Linked DNA regions of Homo sapiens: region 1 is linked to region 2. The links come from fine-mapping of genetic effects on gene expression. A gene starts in region 2. The other region holds a variant in brackets. All regions are shown on one strand. Distances are from middle to middle.

Region 1 (8,156 bases), 98 kb after region 2:
TTGTCTGTCTCCTTCACTAGACACACCTTAGAAATAGAAAGGTGTCTTATTCATTTTTGTATTTCACACCAGCATAAGGCATGCACAGAGTAAGCAATCATTAGATGTTTGTTGGATAAATGTACATTTTTCTTTCACAGCACACAGTAATGGTACTATTTTCCATTTATGCATCTATCTCATTGCTAGTCTGTGAGCTCTTGGAGGGTAAAAACTAGGCCTCGTTCATCTTTTTTTGTTATCAGGTCCTAGCACCGTGCCAGGCATAAAAAGCACTCAGTAACATTTGATGGATGAGTAAGCAGGGATCAACTTGGGGTGTGATCAGTCATTTTCCAGAGGAGATGTCTTCTGAGCTGGATTGACACTATTAGAGGCAGCAGAGAACAAGTTGCATTTGAGATAGAGGAACAATTTATGATTAGGACAAAGGTAAAGCAGACGTAGGAGATAAGCACAAAATCTATTCTCTCCTTGTTGATCTTGGGGAAAGAGAGAGACAGAGATTACTTAATGTATCTGGAACCAAAATGTCTTATGAATTTTTTTTTTTTTTTTTTTTTTTTTGAGACGGAGTCTCACTCTGTCGCCCAGGCTGGAGTGCAGTGGCGGGATCTCGGCTCACTGCAAGCTCCGCCTCCCGGGTTCACGCCATTCTCCTGCCTCAGCCTCCCAAGTAGCTGGGACTACAGGCGCCCGCCACTACGCCCGGCTAATTTTTTTGTATTTTTAGTAGAGACGGGGTTTCACCGTTTTAGCCGGGATGGTCTCGATCTCCTGACCTCGTGATCCGCCCGCCTCGGCCTCCCAAACTGCTGGGATTACAGGCGTGAGCCACCACGCCCGGCCTATGAATTTTTTTAAAAAATTATTTAAATAGCCCAGTCACCTGGAGCTCTGTTTTCTCATTGTGTAGCTGCATATTTTCCTGCGTATAAGGCTTACATTTCCTTGGAATCACAGCACATTCTGGCTCTGATAGGAAGAGCACCCGCCCATGAGTGAATGTGGACCTAGCCGGTTGTTCCAAGTGCTGGCACAGAAGCAGGCTCTGTGCTGTGCTTGCGACTGGACCAGGCATGTTGCAAGCCACTCCCCTGGTGGTCTCTGGCATCCAGACAAGGGGAATGCAGTGGCACCTAGGCAGGGGTGTCCATGACCCCAAAGCCCCAGAGGGGGTGTTACAGCATGCTAATTAGCTCTTATAGTCCCGGCTTCTGCTGCCTAGTGGACAGTGGCATGTTAACAGCTCTGTCATTTCCTTGCCCCACTCTCGCCAGCAGCTCTGGGGCAAACTTGGCACCACCACTGCTTTCCGTTGCATGGGGCAGCTGCCCTTCACCAGTCCCATGTCCAAAAAAAATGAGGTCATGCTGACAATCAAAGGGTTGGGCCTGAACAAGGCCTGGGCAGGGGCATTGCTGGCAGGAGCTCTCCAACTGGCAGAGTGATCAAGAAAAATCCTGTGTCATTGTGACTTCTGGAGTAATGGCTGGCAATTGTTTATGTCTACACCTTAGCAGAATTCAGGCTCCCCTATCCTCCTAGCCTGGTGGTCTCTCATTAGCTTTACAAAGGCAGTTAAGTTTGGCGGAAGGGCTATTCTCACTTAAACTATAAACTAAATGTCTCCCAAAATTAGCTTGGCCCAAGCCCAGTAATAATTAAGTATAGCTTGAAGGCTAAAGGCCAGAAATGAGTTGGCTAGATCAGATCTCCCCAACTGCCATAATTTTCTCACTGTTATAATTTCTGCAAAGGTAGTCTCAATTCTGATAAACACCTTGTCATTAGCAGGAATTTGGAATCCTGCTAAAGGAGAAGAGATCTTATAATATTTTGCAGAGCTGGGAAGAGCAGACCTTGTAGTCTTAATATAGCAAACTTCAAACGGCTAATTGAAAGGGATGCTGACATCTGGTGAAATATTAACGAGCTATCACTTTGTCTGAGACCTTGACTTTCTTCCACTAGTTACTAGGGCCTCCATATAAGGGAAGGGCTGATTGCTTCGTCACTGGCCAGGCAGAGGACCAGTATCTAAGGCAGATGCTATGCTTCCTCTCCATTCCTCCTTCCTCATCCTTCAGCCAGAAGCCCTCAGGCATCGATTCCTAGCAGCCCTGCCTATTGATTTACCAGTTCACAAATTTGTGTGACCCCTACTGTTATCACTAAGTCAGAATGTCCTGGGGCCTGAGTGGAATCCCTGGTCAGCAGAACCCACACTGATTTATTTATTTGAGACAGGGTCTCACTCTGTTGCCCAGGCTGCAGTGCAGTGGCATGATCTCAGCTCACTGCAACCTCCACCTTCTGGGATCAGGTGATCCTCTCATCTCAGTCTCCTGAGTAGCTGGCACTACAGGTGTGCATGACCACGCCCAGCTAATTTTTATATTTTTAGTAGAGACTGGTTTTCACCACATTTCACAGGTTTTGGTCAGGTTGTCTTGAACTCCTGGCCTCAAGTGATCTGCCCGCCTCAGCCTCCCAAAGTGCTTGGATTACAGGCATGAGCCTGCGAGAAAGGATCTGTTCCACACCTCTCTCTTTGGCTTGTAGATGGCCATCTTCTCTTTATATCTCTTCATATCATCTTTCCTCTATGCATCTGCCTCTGTGTCCGAACTTTTTCTTTTTATAAGGACACCATTTGGGGTGGAGCCAAGATGGCCAAATAGGAACAGCTCCAGTCTACAGCTGCCAGTGTGAGCGACGCAGAACACGGGTGATTTCTGCATTTCCAACTGAGGTACCGGGTTCATCGCACTGGGGATTGTTGGACAGTGGGTGCAGGACAGTGGGTGCAGTGCACTGAGCATGAGCCAAAGCAGGGCGAGGCATCTCCTCACCCGGGAAGCACAAGGGGTCAGGGAATTCCCTTTCCTAGCCAAGGAAAGAGGTGACAGATGGCACCTGGAAAATCGGGTCACTCCCATCCTAATACTGTGCTTTTCCAATGGTCTTAGCAAACGGCACACCAGGAGATTATATCCTGTGCCTGGCTCGGAGGGTCCTATGCCCACGGAGCCTCGCTCATTGCTAGCACAGCAGTCTGAGATCAAACTGCAAGGAAGCAGCAAGGCTGGGGGAGGGGCACCCTCCATTGCCAAGGCTTAAGTAGGTAAACAAAGCAGCTGGGAAGCTCGAACTGGGTGGAGCCCACCGCAGCTCAAGGAGGCCTGCCTGCCTCTGTAGACTCCACCTCTGGGGGCAGGGCACAGCCAAACAAAAGGCAGCAGAAACCTCTGCAGACTTAAATGTCCCTGTCTGACAGCTTTGAAGAGAGTAGTGGTTCTCCCAGCACGCAGCTTGAGATCTGAGAACGGACAGACTGTCTCCTCAAGTGGGTCCCAGACCCCTGAGTAGCCTAACTGGGAGGCACGCCCCAGTAGGGGCAGACTGACACCTCACACGGCTGGGTACTCCTATGGAACAAAACTTCCAGAGGAACGATCAGGCAGCAACATTTGCTGTTCACCAATATCTGCTGTTCTGCAGCCTCCGCTGCTGATACCCAGGCAAACGGGTTCTGGAGTAGACCTTCAGAAAACTCCAACAGACCTGCAGCTGAGGGTCCTGACTGTTAGAAGGAAAACTAACAAACAGAAAGGACATCCACACCAAAACCCCATCTGTATGTCACCATCATCAAAGACCAAAGGTAGATAAAACCACAAAGATGGGGAAAATCACAGCAGAAAAACTGGAAACTCTAAAAATCAGAGCACCTCTCCTCCTCCAAAGGAATGCAGCTCCTCACCAGCAACAGAACAAAGCTGGATGGAGAATGACTTTGAGTTGAGAGTTGACTTTGAGTTGAGTTGAGGGAAGAAGGCTTCAGACGATCGAACTACTCCGAGCTAAAGGAGGAAGTTCGAACCCATGGCAAAGAAGTTAAAAACCTTGAAAAAAGATTAGATGAATAGCTAACTAAAATAACCAATGCAGAGAAGTCCTTAAAGGACCTGAAGGAGCTGAAAACCACGGCATGAGAATTACATGATGAATGCACAAGCCTCAGGAGCAGATTCAATCAACTGGAAGAAAGGGTATCAGTGATGGAAGATCAAATGAATGAAATGAAATGAAAAGAGAAGTTTAGAGAAAAAAGAATAAAAAGAAACAAACAAAGCCTCCAAGAAGTATGGGACTATGTGAAAAGACCAAATCTATATCTGATTGGTGTACCTAAAACTGACGGGGAGAATGGAACCAAGTTGGAAAACACTCTGCAGGATATTATCCAGGAGAACTTCTCCAATCTAGCAAGGCAGGCCAACATTCAAATCCAGGAAATACAGAGAACGCCACAAAGATACTCCTCGAGAAGAGAAACTCCAAGACACATAATTGTCAGATTCACCAAAGTTGAAATGAAGGACAAAATGTTAAGGGCAGCCAGAGAGAAAGGTCGGGTTACCCACAAAGGGAAGCCCATCAGACTAACAGCTGATCTCTCAGCAGAAACTCTACAAGCCAGAAGAGAGTGGGGGCCAATATTCAACATTCTTAAAGAAAAGAATTTTCAGCCCAGAATTGCATATCCAGCCAAACTAAGCTTCATAAGTGAAGGAGAAATAAAATACTTTACAGACAAGTAAATGCTGAGAGATTTTGTCACCATCAGGCCTGCCCTACAAGAGCTCCTGAAGGAAGCACTAAACATGGAAAGGAACAACTGGTACCAGCCACTGCAAAAACATGCCAAATTGTAAAGACCATCGAGGCTAGGAAGAAACTGCATCAACTAATGAGCAAAATAACCAGCTAACATCATAATGACAGGATCAAATTCACACATAACAATATTAACCTTAAATGTAAATGGGCTAAATGCTCCAATTAAAAGATAGAGATTGGCAAATTGGATAAAGAGTCAAGACCCATCAGTGTGCTGTATTCAGGAAACCC[G/A]TCTCACATGCAGAGACACACATAGGCTCAAAATAAAGGGATGGAGGAAGATCTACCAAGCAAATGGAAAACAAAAAAAGGCAGAGGTTGCAATCCTAGTCTCTGATAAAACAGACTTTAAACCAACAAAGATCAAAAGAGACAAAGAAGGCCATTACATAATGGTAAAGAGATAAATTCAACAAGAAGAGCTAACTATCCTAAATATAAATGCACCCAATACAGGAGCACCCAGATTCATAAAGCAAGTCCTTAGAGACCTACAAAGAGACTTAGTCTCCCACACAATAATAATGGGAGACTTTAACATCCCACTGTTAACCTTAGACAGATCAATGAGACAGAAAGTTAACAAGGATATTCAGGAATTGAACTCAGCTCTGCACCAAAGCAACCTAATAGACATCTACAGAACTCTCCACCCCAAATCAACAGAATATACATTCTTTTCAGCACCACACCACACCTATTCCAAAATTGACCACATAGTTGGAAGTAAAGCACTCCTCAGCAAAAGTAAAAGAACAGAAATTATAACAAACTGTCTCTCAGACTACAGTGCAATCAAACTAGAACTCAGCATTAAGAAACTCACTCAAAACCACTCAACTACATGGAAACTGAACAACCTGCTCCTGAATGACTACTGGATACATAACGAAAAGAAGGCAGAAGTAAATATGTTCTTTGAAACCAACGAGAACAAAGACACAACATACCAGAATCTCTGGGACACATTCAAAGCAGTGTGTAGAGGGAAATTTATAGCACTAAATGCCCACAAGAGAAAGCAGGAAATATCTAAAATTGACACCCTAACATCACAATTAAAAGTACTAGAGAAGCAAGAGCAAACACATTCAAAAGCTAGCAGAAGGCAAGAAATAACTAAGATCAGAGCAGAACTGAAGGAAATAGAGACACAAAAAACCCTTCAAAAAATCAATGAATCCAGGAGCTGGTTTTTTGAAAAGATCAACAAAATTGATAGACCGCTAGCAAGACTAATAAAGAAGAAAAGACAGAAGAATCAAATAGACACAATAAAAAATGATAAAGGGGATATCACCACCGATCGCACAGAAATACAAACTACCATCAGAGACTTCTATAAACACCTCTAATGCAAATAAACTAGAAAATCTAGAAGAAATGGATAAATTCCTGGACACATATACCCTCCCAAGACTAAACCAGGAAGAAGTTGAATCTCTGAATAGACCAATAACAGGCTCTGAAATTGAGGCAATAATTAATAGCTTACCAACAAAAAAAGTCCAGGACCAGATGGATTCACAGCCAAATTCTACCAGAGGTACAAGGAGGAGCTGGTACCATTCCTTCTGAAACTACTCCAATCAATAGAAAAAGAGGGAATCCTCCCTAAATCATTTTATGAGGCCAGTATCATTCTGATACCAAAGCCTGGCAGAGACACAACAAAAAAAGAGAATTTTAGACCAATATCCCTGATGAACATCGATGCAAAATCCTCAATAAAATACTGGCAAACCAAATCCAGCAGCACATCAAAAAGCTTACCCACCATGATCAAATGGGCTTCATCCCTGGAATGCAAGGCTGGTTCAACATATGCAATCAATAAACATAATCCAGCATATAAACAGAACCGAAGACAAAAACCACATGATTATCTCAGTAGATGCAGAAAAGGCCTTTGACAAAATTCAACAATGCTTCATGCTAAAAACTCTCAATAAATTAGGTATTGATGGGATGTGTCTCAAAATAATAAGAGCTATTTATGACAAACCCACAGCCAATATCATACTGAATTGGCAAAAACTGGAAGCATTCCCTTTGAAAACTGGCACAAGACAGGGGTGCCCTCTCTCACCACTCCTATTCAACATAGTGTTGGAAGTTCTGGCCAGGGCAATCAGGCAGGAGAAGGAAATAAAGGGTATTCAATTAGGAAAAGAGGAAGTCAAATTGTCCCTGTTTGCAGATGACCTGATTGTATATCTAGAAAACCCCATCATCTCAGCCCAAAATCTCCTAAAACTGATAGGCAACTTCAGCAAAGTCTCAGGATACAAAATCAATGTGCAAAAATCACAAGCATTCTTATACATCAATAACAGACAAACAGAGAGCCAAATCATGAGTGAACTCCCATTCACAATTACTTCAAAGAGAATAAAATACCTAGGAATCCAACTTACAAGGGATGTGAAGGACCTCTTCAAGGAGAACTACAAACCACTGCTCAATGAAATAAAAGAGGATACAAACAAATGGAAGAACATTCCATGCTCATGGGTAGGAAGAATCAATATTGTGAAAATGGCCATACTGCCCAAGGTAATTTATAGATTCAATGCCATCCCCATCAAGCTACCAGGGACTTTCTTCACAGAATTGGAAAAAACTACTTTAAAGTTCATATGGAACCAAAAAAGAGCCCGCATTGCCAAGTGAATCCTAAGCCAAAAGAACAAAGCTGGAGGCATCACGCTACCTGACTTCAAACTATACTACAATGCTACAGTAACCGAAACAGCATGGTACTGGTACCAAAACAGAGATATAGACCAATGGAAAAGAACAGAGCCCTCAGAAATAATGCTGCATATCTACAACCATCTGATCTTTGACAAACCTGACAAAAACAAGAAATGGGGAAAGGATTCCCTGTTTAATAAATGGTGCTGGGAAAACTGGCTAGCCATATGTAGAAAGCTGAAACTGGATCCCTTCCTTACACCTTATACAAAAATTAATTCAAGATGGATTAAAGACTTAAATGTTAGACCTAAAACCATAAAAACCCTAGAAGAAAACCTAGGCAATACCATTCAGGACATAGGCATGGGCAAGGGCTTCATGTCTAAAACACCAAAAGCAATGGCAACAAAAGCCAAAATTTACAAATGGGATCTCATTAAACTAAAGAGCTTCTGCATAGCAAAAGAAACTACCATCAGAGTGAACAGGCAACCTACAGAATGGGAGAAAATTTTTGCAATCTACTTGTCTGACAAAGGGCTAATATCCAGAATCTACAATGAACTCAAACAAATTTACAAGAAAAAAACAAACAACCCCATCAAAAAGTGGGTGAAGGATATGAACAGACACTTCTCAAAAGAAGACATTTATGCAGCCAAAAGACACATGAAAAAATGCTCATCATCACTGGCCATCAGAGAAATGCAAATCAAAACCACAATGAGATACCATCTCACACCAGTTAGAATGGCAATCATTAAAAAGTC
Region 2 (8,156 bases):
ATACTCACGACTGACCGAGGTATTTAAAGAAAACCTCTAGACCCTGTGAGAGAGGATAGTAACCCCAAAACCACCCTCCCTAAGCTCCAGATCCTGCTGGGCTAGGCAGGGAGTACAGCTGACCAGCCTCACGACCCTCCATGTTTTGAGATCCTCTGCAACTTGGTAGCTCATGCCAAGGTACTGGGGGGATATCCAGTAGCTACAGCCCCTACTCCAGCATTCAGATGAAACAGGGTTTCTTAACCTGAGGTTCATGAACTACTATGAGGTCTATGGAAAGGCTTATGAAGAGTCTAAAAATCTGGAATTGTATGCACAAGTTACTGGGTGTTTCTGTAGGAGAGAACATTCTCAAAGAGATCTATGGCTTCCAAACAGTTAAGAATGCCTGTGTCATTAAGATGCAATCTTCCTATCAGGACTGACCTACTGACCTGTGAAACATATGTTTTAATAATATGCTTCCATTAGAAAGGGAACACTCGTTAAAAAAAACCATTTTTTCCCCCAATTAAATGAAACACCTACCATATCCTTTTAAATGCCAGTAAAGTTGATGTGAACCAAAAAGGGCCTAAAGGAAAGGAAACCGTAATCTCATCTTCCTCATTCCTCTGAAACTCCCTTCAGAACTTGATCTAGGAATCCAGGGCCTGCCATGCTCCTCTCTGAGCAGGCAGAATTTCACCTGGCCCTAGTCACTGCTGTTACCTCCAACGGGCACTGTCTCTGTTCTGCCATCTGATAGAAACAAAACATGATCTGTGTGTTTCTCAGCCATTATTACTTCTCTGAACTGGAAAAGGGTCAAGCCTCACTCCTGTATTAACTGTACCCTAGCCAGAACAAACCAGAAAGGGCAAAGGTGGGGGTCACTGTCTTTCAGATCAGTTTATCTCCCCACCTTTGGTAACCTGGTCAGTAGGGCATGCTTCCTAGCAGAACAAGCCACCAATCTTCACACACCACCTCCCTGTCCACTGCCCTCTCAATGTCAATGGGAAATGCCTTCCTACCTTCTCCTTGTAGGACACATTTGGCTGGATCAACCTCTTTGGTATTAATCGTACCATAAATTTCATAGCCACGGCACTGGCCTGCTTTCTCCTGAGGACAGAAGCGTATCTTATCATTTACTCCAGGACGGGTGCTATATTGAACTTTGTTCAGCTTCCTGAGCCGTTCTACCACCACCCTCTTGGTGATGAGGATCTCCAAGTCTGAGCCGCTGGTCAGCAAGTGCTCGGTGAACTCCACTCCAGTCCGCATGTCTGCCAGTAACTGTTCCAGCTGGGCCTTCTGCAGCTGCAGGGAATTTTCCTTCTGGGCCCGTATGTCTTCCAGCTGCTTCAGCAGCTTGTCCCGATGCTCCTCAATGGCCTTAATGTAGCCCTCCGAGAATGTCCGGACATCAGCTGCCACTGCCTCCACTCGCTTCTGGAGGGCACTGTTTATTATGTGGATCTGAGCCAGGGCTTCCTCCAGGGCCTCCACGTGGGGCTGAGTACCTTTGAGGAGCTCCCACACAGAGTCCCCATGCTTGTGGATGACATTGCTGGTGAAGTCACAGGGGTGTTCCCGATGCTCCCCCACCACACAATCCTGGCACACGGGCCGGTCACAGAACTCACAGAACAGCCTCAGTTCCTCTGCAGGGTGAACAGGACACAGGATGGGCTTCCCAATCCGGCTGTAGCCTTTCAAGTCTTTTAGGTCCACCATGGTGTGGTAAGTCGTTTTCTTCTGCCGCCTAGGGGCAAACAGAATCAGTAACAGGAAATAAGGGGATAATTCTGTTGGGAATAGTTGGGCAGAGAGATTTTAGGAGCACAGGATCTGAAGTTAAACAAACCTGATTTCAATTCCTTGCTCTAATCTCTAATTGCATGAACCTCTCTGATTCCAGTTTCTCATCTGTACAGTGGGGACAATACCTACCTGAAAGAGCTGTTGTATAGAATAACGTGTGAACAGACTAGGGCTCTGGCTGGCTACATGCCTATGCAGAAGGTTGCAAGACTATGACTGCATGCTAGAACTTTCCCAAAGAGTTTAGACAAGAGTCACAGTCGGCTTCCTAAGGTAAGCTAGCAGTGAGGGCATGGCAGAAAACCAGCATCAAGAAACAGAAACCATGCCAGATAACACAGCAATAAAGTCCAAGCAATTAAAAAGCAGACACCAAGTCTCATCTAGCTTGCATCTAAGATTTTGGTGAAGCATTTCTGTTGACCTGTATCACCCAAATCAGCAGGCTAGAATTTTTTTCAAGAGACATCGTCAACATCATTAGAAAGCGTGAAACCGGCCGGGCGCGGTGGCTCACGCCTGTAACCCCAGCATTTTGGGAGGCTGAGGTGGGCGGATCAACTGAGGTCAGGAGTTTGAGACCAGCCTGGCCAACATGGTGAAACCCTGTCTCTACTAAAAATACAAAAAATTAGCCAGGCGTGGTGGCATGTGCCTGTAATCCCAGCTACTGGGGAGGCTGAGGCAGGAGAATCGCTTGAACCTAGGAGGTGGAGGTTGCAGTGAGTGGAGATTGTGTTATTGCACTCCAGCCTGGGCGACTAGAGCCAGACTCCATCTCAGAAAAAAAAAAAAAGAGAAAAGAAAGTGTGAAACCAATGGTTAGTAGAATCAAAGCTCTCTTTCTAATTCCTTTCCTATAGTAGCCCTCTAGAGATGTAGGGAAATCCTTAGGAAAACATGGTGACTGTTCAGAGTTCCTCCATTAGCATTGTATCAATTTGAAGCTTATATGCCTATTCTGGCACCAGAAGAGTGGCTGCAGAGAAAATAGGGTTAGCTGGTTTGGCTGGCAGCAAGACAGTCGCAGGGACTATCACATAATTACAAGTTAAAAATAGAGTGAAGTCTACAAACTTGTTCTGTTAGTGTAGCCAGAAAACAAATGGAAGTAGAACCCGAAACCTATTTTAGGCTAATCCTAAAACTGTGGTCATTTTATATTCTGGTGTCCTAGGATGGGGTAAGGTAAGAGTACGAAGGGACAAAAGTGATCCATCTGACAAACTATTCACCAAATGCCATAAAACACATAGTCTGCACCCCAATTAACACCTACCAGCCCACCTCACCAAGCTCCAGAGTAACTCTAAGGTACACAAAGCAAAAGCTGAGGTCCGGCCAATCATCATCACCTATTCTAGGAGCACAGCATGGGTTACTGGAATGTAGTCAAAATGATCTGGATTTAATACTCAGTTCTGTTACACACTTACCAACTGTAGGACCTTGGCAAATCACATAATATTGCTGAGCTTGTTTCCCCAATTAATAAATGGGGGCGAAAACAGGGCCTGCTTTTCTGTAAGAGTTGCAAGATCGAAGGAGATCAAGAACAGGATCTATGCTGTTATATTCATTCTCCTGTTTCTCCAGCACCCAGTACAATTATTCACTACACGAATGACTGAAGGAAACTGTAGCTGCACTTTGTAAATTGAAAGGGTTTATTGCTATTGCTATATTAGGCTATATATTAGGTACTATATTAGGCTAACCGGGTTAACTGTTGTACTGGAGTATTTGCTATTGCATTGTTATATTGCTCTTTGACCTTCCACGGTATTTGAGAAGGCTTTCCTTTTCATCTGCTCACCGAGGGATTTGTCTTGACACCTCTTTGTAATCTGCTCTTAAGCTACACCTGATGGAGTGTCCCATCTTTACCTATGAGCCTGGCAGCAGAAGTGGCAGAGGTTGGCTTTGCAGGTCTGACACCTCTTCTCTACTTCCCTGTCGTTGCACAGGTCACACACCAGGCCCTGGCCTTCCCCACGTAGGCTCTCCAGCATCACATCATTCACGGCCAGGTGGTCTATGGTTAAAGCCTTCACTCCACCCATGGGCAGGTCCACCTGAGCATCACATACAGGACAAAGGATGCCGATCTGCGACTGCAGACTTCGTGGCTTGAGTTCCTGGAATATTGACCCCTCAGAGCTTGTGTCAGAGTCTCCCCCTCGGATGTCCACTACTGAGAAGGGCTCCAGCTGCTCCAGACACGTGGTGCAAACTGTATGCAAACAAGGCAAGAGCCTGGGGGCTTTGAAAAGCCCCAAGCACAGGGGGCAGTGAGTCTTGCCTGAGTTCCCAAGTGCAGTCCCACTAGTGAGTTTGCTTACAAAGCCCAGCAGCGGTTTTCTGTTTTCTGACATACTCCTCACGTTTGTGACCAATATTAGAAAGGGCCCTGGGCAGTTCTACGATTTAGTAGCAGGTGATTAAGCCCACCCAAAGAGAAAGTCTCCAGAACTTGAACAGAGACCATGGGGACTCCCTCGCTGACAAATAAAAGGGCAGACGGGAAGACGAGGCGTCCTCGAAGGAATCACCCACAGATCTACTCAGGAGGGCCCCCTCCTTTCCACTGCATCCCACACCAGACACGCCCACGCCCTCCTCTGCCCCGCAAGTCCTCCCCGGATGCGCTTCCAGGTCTAGCTCTCCAGCTAGTCCTGCTGCCAACAAAGTCACCCCTGCACCTCTCGCTCCCTCCACTGCCACCCCCCTCCCGCCGCCCGCCCCACTGCGCGCCACACGCGACAAGCGCCGACCCCACCCGCGCACGATGAGGTAGGGGCCCTCTTGCTCCTTCCCTCTGCGAAAGGCGCGCGCCGGGTGAGGGAATTGCAAGCCGCCGGCGGGCTTCTCGGTGTCCACCGCCTCTCCCGCGCCTCGGCCCGGGACGCCCGCGGGCTCTGGCCCCTCCTCACACCAATCCCAGCCCGGTCTACTCCGGCGAGTCCAATCACCGTCCGAGAGCGGCGGCCCTCGCCGCTCCGGGCCCCGCCGCCCTCCAGAGTGACGCCACTAAGCATCCAATAAGTTTTGGAAATTCCACATCTTCGCCAGTCCACTCACGCGGGGGGCGGGACCTGACAAGGCCGTGGGCGGGGCGGCCGAAGGGCTTAGAGTGCGGCGGGAGGAAAAGGCCAAGGCTCGGAGCGAGCGGCATAGTGTAGTCAGCGTCACCGTTTCACAGGGACTGTCCCTCTCTCTGTGGTGACCAGAGAGGCCTCAGGACCTCTTAAAAAGCCACGCTGATTTGGCGCCGGGACGGCCTTCTTTCTGCCCTCGGACTCGTCCCACGAACGCAGACTGGGTTCTCCCATTGGTGGATGGCACTGTCAGTTGGCTCTGCGCTGGGAGTGGGAGACGTTTTTCGGGCTCCCGAGGTCTCGGCCGCTCGGGGGCGCCAGACGTTTCTCCTCCACGCGGGTTTGAGGCTGCGAGGCTCCCCTCTGTCCTCAGGCGCTTACTGTAGCTCACAGGTCCCTCAGGCCTAGCGTGCTGGGTACAAGCACTCCCGCGGCTCCCCGACTTTGGGTATTTTTCGGGGGTGAGGGCATCTCAGGCTCGCGTTACGGGGACCGGTTCGGGAGACCGTGGAGCCGAGGTGTCGAATGGAGGGCTTACTTCGGCCGGGCCAGGGAGCGCCACCCTCCTTGTCGGGCTCGGGAAGGCTTTGTTTTCCGGTCCGGGGGGAGTGCAGATGACCTAAGGAGTTGAATGTCACCCGGGATTCCACAGTCCTGTGTAACAGAAACGAGCTGAGCGAGTTGGACCCGCTGTTTTTATCAGTCAATCACGGAGGGCTCCTGCCTGGTCACAGTGAGACAATGGACGGTGGCAATGAGGGACAAGCCCTTTGTGGGCTTAAAACTAATTGGGAAGATGAACACGTCCGACCCCTTTAACTTTATAATTACACGGCCACCTTCTCTGGCCTTACCAGGCGTCTCCTGATTCTCCAAAATTCCAAAAATGGAAACAGCTGCTCCTTTCCCCTCCACCTGTTGTTATCTCCAGTTGCGTCAGCTTGTCTACTGGGCCCTCACTGCTTTCTTTGTTCATGACCTTCCCTACTTAATTTGTACCCAGTGGGCGACTGTTTCACTTGATTCCTTCATTATCTGTTTCATGCTATAGGCATAGTGTCTGGAGCCTAAGCTTTTAAAAGTATGGAATCTGAAAAAAAGTTAACCCCAAAATATGAAAAAAAAAAAAAAAACCATTATAAAATATAAAAATGAAATGTTTGGCCATTTCCAAAATATAACACGCCAATGAGTCAAATGCCACCTTTATATAAAATGTGCAAGTAATTTCCAAATGTTAAGCATATCTCCAAAGATTTTTAAATAGTCCTTACCTAGATTTTTTTCAGCCTCTTGTCCTTCTTGCATCTACTCTCAAAATCGGCATTCGCCTCTCCAGTAGGCTGGAGGAAGTCACAAAAACTGTGTGGACTTGGGTTTGCTATATATTCTTGCTTTGAACTTCACCTTTACCCTCCCTGCTGCTTGGCTGTGCTTTACTTCATCTCTTGTTCATACTGTATCACATTTCTTGTGGTAGTAGTTTCAAGCTTCTCTTGTTTCAGAAGTACTTCATAATTTACACGTGCAATATCTCATTTAGCAGTATCTCATTTAACCTTTAACAATATTGTAAGGAAATGGCCTCAAAGAGGTCTTGCCAGGTCTTGGATGGCCAGCCCAAGTTAACATATCTGGAACTTGAACACAACCTTATGATGCCATATCTAAGATTATATTCGGGCTACCTCTACCTTTCCCTTTTTTTTTTTTTCTTTTTTTGAGATTGAGTTTTGCTCTTGTTGCCTAGGCCGGAATGCAATGGCAGGATCTCGGCACACTGCAACCTCCACCTCCAGGGTTCAAGCGATTCTCCTGCCTCAGCCTCCCAGGTAGCTGGAATTACAGGCATGCACCACCACACCTGGCTAATTTTTTGTATTTTTAGTAGAGACTGGATTTCACCATGTTGGGCAGGCTCCTCTCGAACTCCTGACCTCAGGTGATCCACCCGCCTCGGCCTCCCAAAGCGCTGGGATTACAGGCGTGAGCCACCGCGCCTGGCCACCTCTACCTTTCCTTTCTCAGTTTATTAAGCATCAAATCCCTCACACATGCTGCAGCTAATTCCCTTCCATTGATGAGAAAAACAAGGTTGTCTGAAGAACTGCCTCGCCTTTCTACTTAAAAAATCCATGATTCCTCACACCTCCTCTCTTACCTCTCCTGACTGCCATTCTTTAGTGCCAAGATTAGTTCCTCAAGATTTTTGTTTTTTATCCCAACCTCTCCTGCTTCCTCAAAACCTTATTCCTATGTTTCAGTCAGTTTTTCTGCCAAGAGTTCTGATGAAGTCCTGAAAGGGGAAGCAAATCGTCTTTTGATCTAGCTCCCCTTCAACGTATTAATAGTGGTGGTTCTCGCCCCTATATTTCTCAAAAGGGTGGTCTCACTGTCTGCTTTCATCATCTTTTTATAACCATCACCACCGATTTATTCCTCCCCTCTTTCCTATTGAGACTTTCTTGTAGATCATGAGTGACCATATTGCTGGCCTTTTCTCAATAGGCAATCTCTTTAGTATTTACCATTTTTTGTACTTCCTCATCCTTAAAACTTGCCTCCTCCTTGACTTCTGAAATACTCTACTCTCCTAACCTTCTGTCTCTTGGGCTGCTTCTCACACCCTCCATCCTCACTAGTTCCCCTTCCTCCACTTTATCTCCTACCTTTGCGTCTACATTTCCTCACGTGGATGATTCCCAGACCAACGCTTCCAGTACTGATGTCTCCCCTGAGCTTTTGACATAGATTTCTAAATCTGCACTCAAATATGTTCCTATCACCAAGTCCCACATAGCTTAAACTTCACTGAACTTCTTTGCTCACTGAACTGCACTCTCTGAATTTTCCTATTTGATTCTCTCCAGAGTATCATCATTCTCCTTTCCCTCCTGCATGAAACCTTATAGTGCTGCTGGCCTCCTTTCTCTTGTTCCATATCCAGGCAGACACCGATTTCTTTCCATCCCCACTGCCAACACCTCACTGCATACACTTTTTAAGATGCTATAGCTCTTTATCACCCTCACCTTAAGTATTACAATAGTGTCTGAATTATCCCTGCCCTTTATTTTTTTTGATCTACACAGTTCTTCCAAATTAATTGTAAAAACATATAAAAACATGATACAAGTCAGTCTTCATTCTAAAACTTTCAGTAGCTCCCCATTTTTGTAGGATAATATCTGCATTCTTCAATAGATTCATAAAACTGCTTGTTTAGTTATTCCCTAAACATTGCCA

Evidence for each region. PIP is the estimated chance that this variant, and not a neighbour inherited with it, causes the effect.
Region 1: its variant is fine-mapped to the expression of TRIM45 in prefrontal cortex (GTEx, PIP 0.97).

Annotation. Positions count from the first base shown.
Region 1 is chr1:117,214,938-117,223,093 of GRCh38, forward strand. No RefSeq gene overlaps it. Among named protein-coding and RNA genes, the nearest start is that of VTCN1, 8.1 kb to the left of the region's middle. The variant G/A (reference allele first, on the strand shown) is at 4,918.
Region 2 is chr1:117,117,015-117,125,170 of GRCh38, forward strand. TRIM45 (tripartite motif containing 45) reads right to left here and starts at 4,735. Exons shown (of 6, transcript NM_025188.4): 1 at 3,700-4,735; 2 at 1,020-1,753. The coding sequence starts at 4,187. RefSeq lists a silencer at 4,500-4,689 and an enhancer at 5,000-5,169.